Homo sapiens: one gene and its partners. The protein of the gene in region 3 purifies or fractionates together with the protein of the main gene of each other region. This does not show direct contact. Each region holds a gene or a part of one and is shown on either strand. Other genes may lie near its edges. The genes, in order: SUCLA2, OXCT1 and S100A16.

Region 1 (3,652 bases), on a different chromosome or scaffold from region 3:
GCTGAATCTGTGTGTTAACTAGCTTGTTTTTTGAAGCAACTGGGTATATATTTGAAAGCCCCAGTACGGATTTCATGTAGAACATTAATTGTGTAGAATTTAGAGTAACAAAAATTTTAAGAGTCATGAAAATAATTTTCTTATGTAGAACAACTTTTTTAAAAATAACAACTTTCTGTATTGTGATTTTTCTTATTTACAATTAAATCTATTAATGTTTGAATGATATGTCTTTTGCAACTTTTAATTTTTATAAGGAAGTATTTCTAAAGATATAACACTAGATGGTAGTAAAAATCCACTCAGAATATAAAATTAAGAAGCATTGTTTTATTCTTAAGTGATATTCTATGTGATAGAATTTAGTTTGTAAGTTATTTTAAAAATCCCATGACAGTAACCTCATATATTACCCAAAATTTACATAAATTATATTTTTACACATTCACTTATTTTCACTACATTTTATTTTTCTTTTCATTGACATTATATATCGGCATCTGTCATTTTGTTAGTTATGTTTTTACTTTTTGTTACAGTAGCCAGAAACAAGGTATAAATACCTGGATGAATTGAGATAGGAGTTCTATCCATAGTAATTCATCTTTATTGTAGTAAAGGTAGGATACTGAATATGTATTATTAAAGATATGTTTAAGGCATTTGGGAAAAGGATCAAATTTGAGTTCATCTTATGAACTTGAATTTCCTGACAACTATTTAGGTCTTGTTGAGGATAAAATGTTTTTATTTTAATACTTGCTTACTAATAATACGTGGTTATAATTCAGGTTAAAAATACTGTAGTACCAGTAAAACTGTTTGACCGAAGACATTATAAATTCTTTGATATTATCACATTAGACCAATGTAGAGTTGGTTGGTGTTACTTTTTGGGGTATAGCCATGTTTTTGGGAATCCCTGTGGACAGATCTCTGTTGAACAACAAAAATTAGTCACCTATTTAAACTACAAAGAGCACTTGTGATTGAGTTAATGTCCCATGCATGGGAATTAACTAATCATTAGAAATTGCTTTTGTTAAAATGGGGAAAGGATTTCCTATTTAATAAATGGTGCTGGGAGAACAGGCTAGCCATGCAGAAAATTGAAACTGAACCCCTTCCCTACACCATATACAAAAGTTAACTCAAGATGGATTAAAGACTTAAATGTAAAACTCAAAACTATAAAAACTCTAGAAGGAAATCTAGGTAATACCATTCATTCAGGACATAGGCGCGGGCAAAGATTCATGATGAAAACGCCAAAAGCAATTGCAACAAAAGCAAAAATTGACAAATGGGATCTAATTAAGCTAAAGAGCTTCTGCACAGCAAAGGAAACTATCATCATAGTGAACACACAACCTGCAGAATGGGAGTAGATTTTTGCAATCTATCCTTCCGACAAAGGTCTAATATCCAAAGTTTATGAGAAACTTAAAACAAATTTTCAAGAAAAAAAGCAAACAACCCCATTAAAAAGGGGGCAAAGTACATGAACAGACACTTCTCAAAAGAAGACACAGGCTGGGTGTGGTGGCTCACGCCTGTAATCCCAGCACTTTGGGAGGCCGAGGTGGACGAATTACCTGAGGTGAGGAGTTTGAGACCAGCATGGCCAACAAGGTGAAACCCTGTCTCTACTAAAAATAAAAAAATTAGTTGGGCATGGTGGTGAGTTCCTGTAATCCCAGCTACTTGGGAGGCTGAGGCAGGAGAATGGCTTGAATCTGGGAGGTGGAGGTTGCAGTGAGCCGAGGTTGTGCTACTGCACTCCCGTCTGGGCGACAGAGTAAGAATCCGTTTCAAAAAAAAAAAAAAAAAAACTATACATATGGCCAACACACATGTGATTAAAAAGCTCATCACTGATCTTTAGAGAAAAGCAAATCAAAACCACAATGAGATACCATCTCATGCCACTCAGGTGGCTATCATTAAAAAGTCAAAAAACAACAGATGCTGGTGAGGTTTTGCAGAAAAAGGAATGCCTTTACAGTGTTGACGGGAGTGTAAATTAGTTCAACCATTGTGGAAGACAGTGTGGCAATTCCTCAAAGACCTAGAGGCAGAAATACTATTTGACCCAGCAATCCCACTACTGGGTATATACCCAAAAGAATATAAATCATTCTGTTATAAAGATACATGCATCGGTATGTTCACTGCAGCACTGTTCACAATAGCAAAGACATGGAATCAACCTAAACATCCACCGATGATAGACTGGATAAGAAAATGTGGTACATATACACCATGGAATACTCTGCAGCCATAAAAAAGGAATGAGATTATGTCCTTTGCAGGGATATGGATGGAGTTGGAAGCCATTATCCTCAGCAAACTAATGCAGGAGCAGAAAACCAAACACCGTGTGTTTTCACTTAAAAGTGGGAACTGAATGATGAGAACACATGGACACAAGGTGGGGATCAACACACACTGGGGCCTGTCGGGGTGGGGGTGGAGGGAGGGAGAGCATCAGAAAGAATAGCTAGTGAATGTTGGGCTTAATACCTGGGTGATGGGATGATCTGTACAGCACACCACCATGGCACATGTTTACCTATGTAACAAACCTACACATCCTGGACATGTACACCTCAACTTAAAAGTTGAAGAGAAAAAAAAAGAATAAGCAAAGCAAAACTAAAACAAAACAGAAAACAATTACTTCTATTACTGACTTGTTTTTAGGAGATGTATCATAGGTTCTACTGGTCTTTAGTACCTTTCACATCCTGATTCCGGGAGGTAACTTCTATGGGGTTGGCTTGCCAGAAAGTGAATTCAAGTACCTACTCTCTGTGTGATACCTTTGTTAAATTAGATTTCTTAACATTTGCCTAGTGCCTGTTGGGTACTTTTGGTCTGAGTCAAGTCTATTTAATAAATCACATTTACTACTTTTATTTTTCTGGTAAAACAACTGCAGTCTTCTGCAAATGAGTGGGACATTTTCCTGTGTCAATTTTTGACTTTACCTGAAATAGTTATAAAATGTGCTTAAGAATTCTAATTTTACTTCGTGTGATTTTTTTTAAATACACATCTTTATTTTTTATTTTTATTTTTAATTTTTTTGAGAGTCTTGCTCTGTCGCCCAGGCTGGAGTGCAGTGGTGCCATCTCTGCTCACTGCAACCTCCGCCTCCCAAGTTCAAGTGATTCCCCTGCCTCAGCCTTCCAAGTAGCTGGGATTACAGGTGCATTCCACGATGCCCTGCTACAGATCTTTATTATATCATGTGGCTGCTTTCTCATTTAAGCCTTTTACATTTAAGCCTATTTTAAGGCAAATTTAAAAAAATACCAACAAGAGAAGAAGAACTTAGGTTAAGAAAGTGAAAAGTAGGGCTGGGCGTGGTGGCTGACACCTGTAATCCCGACACTTTGGGAGGCTGAGGCGGGCGGATCATGAGGTCAGGAGATCGAGACCATCCTGGCTAACACAGTGAAACACTGTCTCTACTAAAAATACAAAAAAAACAAAAAATTAGCTGGGCGTGGTGGGGGGTGCCTGTAGTCCCAGCTACTCGGGAGGCTGAGGCAGGAGAATGGCATGAACTCAGGAGACGGAGCTTGCAGTGAGCCGAGATTGCACCACTGCACTCCAGCCTGGGTGACAGAGTGAGACTGTGTCAAAA
Region 2 (3,652 bases), on a different chromosome or scaffold from region 3:
GATGCCTTACATGCTGACCTCCTCTTTCTCTACATTGCCTCTTGTTTAAAAAATTATTTCTTTTTTGATACATGATAGACCTGTATGTTTTCAGGGTACCTGTGATAATTTGACATATTCGTATAACATAAAGGTAAAATCAGGGTAATTGGGATATTCATTACCATATTTATCTATTCTTTATGCTAAGCACATTCAAATTATTCTCTTCTAGCAACTTTGAGAGGTACAATAGATTTTTAACTATAGTTATCCTATTTATCTATTGAACGTGAGGTCTTACTCACATTTCCTCTTCATTTTACTCATTTTACTTCATTTTAACATCCAGAGCACCTCTGCATTTAACTTGTAACTTCTCTTATTGCTTATTGTCTCCCCCTTTTATTTTTCTAGACTTCCACAGCTGCTTTTTTTTTTTTTCCCTCTCTTTTGGAGTTAATGTTTCTCATGATTCTAGACATTATTGCTTGTTGTCTGTTTTTTTTCTTTTCTTTTTGGCAAAAGAAGTTTCCTCCTAAACTTTTTTGAAACTTAAAATGAGTCAGGAAGAAAGCCTGGAATGTGAGTCTCCCTCTTCCTCCCCCTCAACAGCCCTTACTTTGTATCGTACACAGAGTTTTGCAGGTGTGTATAATTTTTCGCTAACACCATTTAGGGTTGGGTCCATTTTTGTGTCTATAACAGATTGAGGTTGTCACTAAAATAAAATAAAAAATGAGGACGTTATTGCCTTGCAGCTCCTCTTTTCTCTTACCTGAGATATAATGTTTGCCAAGCAATCACAAACACATTGTCACCAAGGGATGAATTCTTATCCTTCTCTAAGCTTTAAAATAAGTTTTCAGTTATAAAGTAGGAAGAGTGCAGTGCAGAGAAAGCAATCTTTTAAAACAAAGTTCAGATCAATAACAACATTTCCTAGTGTCTATTTTTCTGTTAATGACTAAAGACAAGTACCAATTAGAGAAGCCTCAAACGTCTGGATTTCTGGTTGTAGCAAGTGGTGGGGCATGAGAACTATTCATAGTGCCATGGAGAAGTCCGGGTTGTTCTTAGCTACCTCTCTTCCATCTTGATCTTGCCTGAGGATACTTACATCTGCCCATTGCTTTGCCCTGAGGCTTTTCCTTTGTCCTTTATTCTTTATTACCCATTTCTAACTTCAGGAGGAAAACTCTGCCATCTTTAGTAAGGGATCTTTTATTTTTATGTTTGTCCTAACCAGCTCATTTTAGTCATCATTTTCTCATCAGGTTTTCCATTAACGCTTATGTTTAAATCGCCTGATCTCACTAGACTTTTTAATCCTCCCATTGCTCCTTCCTTATTGTTCTCAAGATCACACGAAACTGGCACTGAAGTCAGTCCCTTCAATAGCTAGCATTAAGATAGTTCTGCCTCTTCATTTTTTTTTTTAAACTCTTTTCATAGATTGTCTGAAAACATGTTTTCTTCTTTTGGTTTGTACTTCAAATATTTTCTTTCTTAGCTATTAACTCTGCTAACCAACTCTGAGAAAGCTTTGATTTTTGTATAGACGTTTTCAATACTGTTGAGTGTTGTTATTTTGACAAATGCTGCACATGCATTTTCTACAGTCTGAAAGCCATTTATATTAGGATGACAAAACATGGAATTGTTTATGTTTAGCTAGATTCTTGCTTATCGGAGTTGTTTTACCAGGACATATTCATTCTGTTAGTTCTGAGAGTTATGATATAATTGTCCTTGGTAATGAAGCTTTGTCTTGATTTGGTGTTTTCTGTTGAAACATTCTTTGATGGAACCAAAAGAAAATAGTGGCGGGTTTCCATCAGCATTTTCAGTTTAAGTGAGCAATACTTTTTTTTCTTCCTTTTTTATTATGTTCTTTGCCCCTGCTAGAGGGTAAGGCAGGAAGACCAAAGGAAGCTGCTGTCACAATCATAGCAAGAGATTTGAGGGCCTGACCTTTTGGAGCAATATTAGGCATGAAAAATAATTCACATTATTATTTTCAAATGTGCAGGCAAGAAGGGTTTGCTTAGTTTAGTTCATAATGTGACTGCTTTTAGGGTTTAGAAACTTCAGTTTTTCTTAGACTCTCTATTTTCTTTTTAACATGCCCTCTTTGGTACATGTCAAACTAATTGTGAGATTTATCACATGCTCCACTTATGATTTTCTAGTTTTAGAAACTTAGTGTTTATCACATCTTCTGAAAAAATAACATTGTGGGTTTCAGTTTTGATTATAAAAGTAAAAGGAAAACAAAAACCACTTGTACTATTACCCAGAGATAACAATTCTTAGCATTTCCGTGTGTTTCCTTTTATTTTCTGTAGGTATATAAATAATTGTCTATCCCAAAGTGCATTTCTATAAATTTTTATTTACTTATACAAAATCTTGCATTTTATGAAACATGAAATTATGAGATCATTAAATATTATGAGTGCATAATATTGATTAATCACATGGCTACACCATGTTTATTTGACCATTTCCCTATTGCTGACATTAAAGTTGTTTTCAATTCATTATTATAATAAATTTTGTGATTAGTGTTTTCATGAATAATAAATCTTCATGTCTATCCTCAGGATACTGGATTAATGTATAAACACATTTTTAAAGTCAAGAACTTCTTTGAAGGCTAAAACTGAATATGGAAAGATGTGAATGAGCCCTAATGGCTGAAAGTTCCAACCAGTTGAAGAGGTAGCAGTAGTGCTTAGCTGCTCTGCATTCCCCACCTCCACCTCGAATAGAAAATACTGGAGCATACAGAGTTTTCAAGGGGAGGACATAGAGTGCAGTGGCAAGGGGTCTTCGGCCCCACTTTCCCTGTCTCCTCACTCATCCCCAGATGCCTCTCTACCCAGTAGTTCAACTTGGATGCCGACATATTTTCTGACCTTTCCTTGGAATTTTTGTTTGATTTTTCTGTTTATCAAAGAAGATAGCTTTTATCCACCATGTCCTTGCCTTTTTCAGCTATTTGTGAGCATTGCACAATAAGTAAAATGTCTTCTGTAAGCCCTGGTATTCTTGCACTGTAGGAGGAGCCTAGTGAAGGCATATAGTAGTAGAACAGCATAAGAAGGGCTACTTAACCTCACAGATTTCCAGATTTCAGTGATTAGTTTAGGAAACAAAAATCAATACTACTATCCTTGTATAAGTCAGTTCATGGAAGCAAACGTTTGTTTTGGACACTGTATCTGTTAAGCTGAGTACTCACAACTTAAAGGTGTGTATGTTTGTGTGCGTGCGTGTCACCAGAAAGCTAATTCTTTCACCACAACAATGTTGAGTTTAGTTTTTCTTGATCCTTGTTCTTTTGAACTGTTTTATGTTGATAGAAAAATTGTCTTTTAAATTAATTCTAAAATAACAGACTAATGTGGAGGCATTTCATATTGCTATATGACCTTATTCTTGGTGAATGACTTTGATTCTAATTAAATTGAGTATTTCTAGTTATTAATTAATATTTCAGTTTTGAAGTTTCCATATTGGAATTAATTATCTGTCTTTAAGTAAATTATTTCAGCAATTGCAGTTGTATCACGATCCTAGGAAGCTAACAAGAATAATTTACAACTGTTACAAATAGCATTTGTATCTATATTTAAAAAGCTCTTCAATTGACCAAGCAGATGTTATT
Region 3 (3,752 bases):
TTGGCACAGTCCTTCCAGAAATGGGCACGGTTTTCAGAATCACCTGGAACACTGGTCATGAACCTGAGCCACCTCCAACCCAAGGGCAGCACAGCAGACAGACCACAGGTTGAACAATGGTCTTCCTCTTCAACTGTAAATGTTAAAGTGTTTGTATGAAAGTCTTGCAGCGGTATAGACAGGGAACCACGCAGTTACACACTTAAATAAAAGAATATGGAAAAGCGTGTGGCTTCCTGCCATCCTGGTACTCTGCTCCATCCTCCCAGCCAAGGACCAGAGGGTTTGGGCAGGCGGAGGAGGGAAGACAAGGGCAGGATTTCCCTTCAGAGAAGCCGCAGCCTGACTCTTCCTCTCAACTCTCCTTCCTTCTTGCTTCCTGGCCTGTTCCCTCCTGGTCCCACCCTTCCTTCAGAAGAGGCTTCATGAAAGAAAAAGCTTAAAAGGTGGTCAAGGACGTGCAATACCCGTTATCAGGGCTGGAAGGAGGTGGAATATTTATAGAACGTGTACCTTGAGCAAGGCACTGGACCAGGCAATGTGGGCTGGAGAGATGCAGAGATTAAAAGCAGGGGGTGGTGTATATCCAGGATTGAAAAAACTGTCCTAAAGTCTGAGTCCCGCCGCTTGGTTCAGAAAATACATTGGCCATGTGTAAGAAAAACTATGCTTGTCTCAAGGAACAAGACAGGACCCAGAAAGACACCGTGGCCTCACCAGTTAGTGGGCCCCAGCCAGTGCTAGCTGAGTGGTGATGACAGACACGTCTGTGGGAGTCAGGGAGGATGGCACCCAGTGCAGGGGTCAAGGCAGGCTTCCTTCGGAGGCGTGGCTTGGGCGGGGCGAGAGTGATTGGCAGGCTGGCTGGAGAGGGCAGGGCAGCCGGCATGGGAGTAGGAATGGCCACAAGTGGCCAACGGAAAGCAGGTGGCAGGACAGGAGGCTGTGGTGGGGCCTGACCGAGCAGCCTTTCCTTCCAAATCTGACTGTGGCTTGCTCAGGCCCCTATGGTGGCTGTGACCCTGTTTTGTCCATCTCCTTTCACCAGGACCCGCCGGGTGAGGGTGACTGGAGCACATTCCTGGGCTTGGGGGTGGGAAGGGAGTCTGATTTGCCTGGGGTTGATGTGGGGGGGTTTTGGGCATGGGCCGTGACTCACAGAGTAGATCCAGATCCGCCTGCTCCCCTCATATCCTGTTATTCAGAAGGCTGTATCCGCTTAGAAAGTGTCTTTTGTCCTGGGGTGAGAGGGTGACGCATGTGCCCTCTGGCAGTCTGCTGCTGTGTCCAGAGTCCGACTCCAGCTGGGCTGTAACTGGGCTTGGCCCCCGCCTTAGGTAACGATGTGTGGGTGGGGGTGTTCTTGGGTCCTGCTGTGTATTTAGGGATGGGAATAAGGGAGGAGAGGCTAGCAGGGTGTGGCGGGGTGTGTTGGGAGAGCTGCACAAAATCTGATCCAATTGATCTGGACCTTGTCCTTTCCCATAAGGGGCAGCCAGGTTCTGAGACCCGGGACTCACTGTCCTGGAGCCCGGCAAGGGATTGGGGAAGGCCTACATCTTCCTTTCTGCTTTGTTGCCTGGGGCTGGGGTCTCAGCCAGTCCTGGGAGTGGGAGGCAGTAGCCTCTGCCCCTAACCTCCATGGCTCATCCCAGCTGTCCCAGCCATGCTTGGCCCCGGGAGAGGTGGGCCAGCTGTGGAGCAGGGTGGGAGAACAGGTGGACTCTTCTCTTCCCATGAGAGCCTCTTGCCCCGTAGGGCTCTGACACTAGGGATCTTGCTCCCTAGGGCTGGAACCTGGTGCCTGGGGCTGGGGCAGGGCCTGGAGAACCTGTTGAGGCGGTTGAGCTGGGGAGCACCTGGATTAGAGGAGCCGCATAGTTCTCATTCCAGGGCTCACTCTCCCCCACCCACTCTGTTCCCCTTTTCCTGCCACCTTCTTCTCCAGGGACCAGAAACAAGGCAGGAGGAGGGACCCAGGGCCTAGGGTGGGTGTGGAGGAGGAGGAGGTATGGCCTGTGGGTGTCTCTTCTCATCTCCCCTCCTCCTGGTGTCCAGGCCCCGCCAGCAGGCGAAGCAGGGAGATGTCAGACTGCTACACGGAGCTGGAGAAGGCAGTCATTGTCCTGGTGGAAAACTTCTACAAATATGTGTCTAAGTACAGCCTGGTCAAGAACAAGATCAGCAAGAGCAGCTTCCGCGAGATGCTCCAGAAAGAGCTGAACCACATGCTGTCGGTAAGGCCTCTCACCCAAGGGCCTTGCCTCCCTCTCCCCTTCCCTCCCCTGCAAGCCTCTGGCCTCTGAGGGTGTCTTTCCCTGCTGAGGCCTCTATCCTTCCAGTGTCCCCGCTAACTCCAGGGTCTTCTACACCCCCAGGCCTCTGTCTTCTCAGGATGCTTAGGCCTAGCCAGTGAGGGCTATATTTGCATTTCCCAAGGGAAGCAGCTGTGCAGGCCAGATCCTGGGTCTCTGCCTAGGGTCCTGCCTGGAGTCTCTCTGGGGCTTCCACCATCAGCATTGCTGACCCTGCTTCCTCCCCAGGACACAGGGAACCGGAAGGCTGCGGATAAGCTCATCCAGAACCTGGATGCCAATCATGATGGGCGCATCAGCTTCGATGAGTACTGGACCTTGATAGGCGGCATCACCGGCCCCATCGCCAAACTCATCCATGAGCAGGAGCAGCAGAGCAGCAGCTAGAGACCCCTTTGGCCACACCTTCCAGGCACTGGCCTGATGCCCCGCCCTGGTGCTCTCCCCAGGCTCCCTCCTCAGCCTCCTGCCCACCCAGGGCCCTTTACTCTCTTCTCCCTCCAGACCTTCCTCTGACCCTTGCTGAACTGGGGTCCCTTTGTGAGTGTCTCAGTCTAGAGGTACCTCCCTCCCTGGGGGGTCTCAGCTCCTGGAGTCGCAGGCCCTTGGGGCCCCTCTGTGAGATCTCAATGCTGTCTGGGGACCCTAAGAGTTTTCTCACCTGTTCAGTCTCATCTAACCTTCCAATGTCTGATGTTCCTGCCAAATTCCTGCCTGATTCTGGGTCCGTCCTGACCTCCAAAGGTCAGCTTGGTGCTTGAGGTCTCCCTGCTCTTGGTGGCAGTGGTAGCAGCAACAGCAGCAGCAGCAGCAGCAGCAGCAGCAGAGACCTCTCCACTTTCCCTTAGCCCCTCTGCTGGGTAGAGAGGCACTTTCAGGGACTTCCCTCCAGCTGCCTCTTCATCTGGGAATGAGCTAAGCAAGGCTGAGCCTCCTCCTGTTGCTTGAAATAATGATGATATAAAGGCTGGATTTGGAGTTTGTATCCCCTGGTCCCTCTGGGATGCTCATTAAAACCTTCCCACTCCTTGGAAACGTTTTATGCTTTGGTGGTCTTAGCCCTTGGGCCCTGTGATAAGAGAGAATCTCACAGAAGAACCTCAAAGGCAGAGCAAGAAAGGAGCCAGAACTCCTAAATTCCAACAGGCACTGTCAGCTGTGGGCCAGCAGCTCCCTCCATCCTCCTCCATAAAGGGCCAAAGGCCTTAGGTCACCATCTCTGGGCCCTTTTAGCCCAGACTCAGACTCAAATTCAACTTCCAGGCACACTGTAAGTCCCGTTTAGTCCTCACTGCAATTCCACGAGAGAGGGACCATGACCCTTAGTCTTTTTTTTTTTTTTTTTTTGGAGCGGAGAGTTTAATAGGCAAGAAGGGGCAAGACGGAAGGGAGAAGGAAGAAGCTCCCCTGTACAGAGACAGAGGGACGGAGGCCCCA

The links.
Region 1: the proteins of S100A16 (region 3) and SUCLA2 fractionate together in Homo sapiens (co-fractionation; one large-scale study listed by BioGRID). This does not show direct contact.
Region 2: the proteins of S100A16 (region 3) and OXCT1 fractionate together in Homo sapiens (co-fractionation; one large-scale study listed by BioGRID). This does not show direct contact.

What each region holds. Positions count from the first base shown.
Region 1 is NC_000013.11:47,984,210-47,987,861, reverse strand, and holds part of SUCLA2 (succinate--CoA ligase [ADP-forming] subunit beta, mitochondrial precursor), read left to right. Parts: intron 1-3,652. UniProt on the Homo sapiens protein: ATP-specific succinyl-CoA synthetase functions in the citric acid cycle (TCA), coupling the hydrolysis of succinyl-CoA to the synthesis of ATP and thus represents the only step of substrate-level phosphorylation in the TCA.
Region 2 is NC_000005.10:41,807,853-41,811,504, reverse strand, and holds part of OXCT1 (succinyl-CoA:3-ketoacid coenzyme A transferase 1, mitochondrial isoform 3 precursor), read left to right. Parts: intron 1-3,652. UniProt on the Homo sapiens protein: Key enzyme for ketone body catabolism.
Region 3 is NC_000001.11:153,606,484-153,610,235, reverse strand, and holds the end of S100A16 (protein S100-A16), read left to right. Parts: intron 1-880; exon of another isoform or gene 881-1,337; intron 1,338-2,058; 5' UTR 2,059-2,084; coding exon 2,085-2,237; intron 2,238-2,517; exon of another isoform or gene 2,518-2,543; coding exon 2,544-2,702; 3' UTR 2,703-3,350; downstream 3,351-3,752. UniProt on the Homo sapiens protein: Calcium-binding protein. Binds one calcium ion per monomer. Can promote differentiation of adipocytes (in vitro). Overexpression in preadipocytes increases their proliferation, enhances adipogenesis and reduces insulin-stimulated glucose uptake.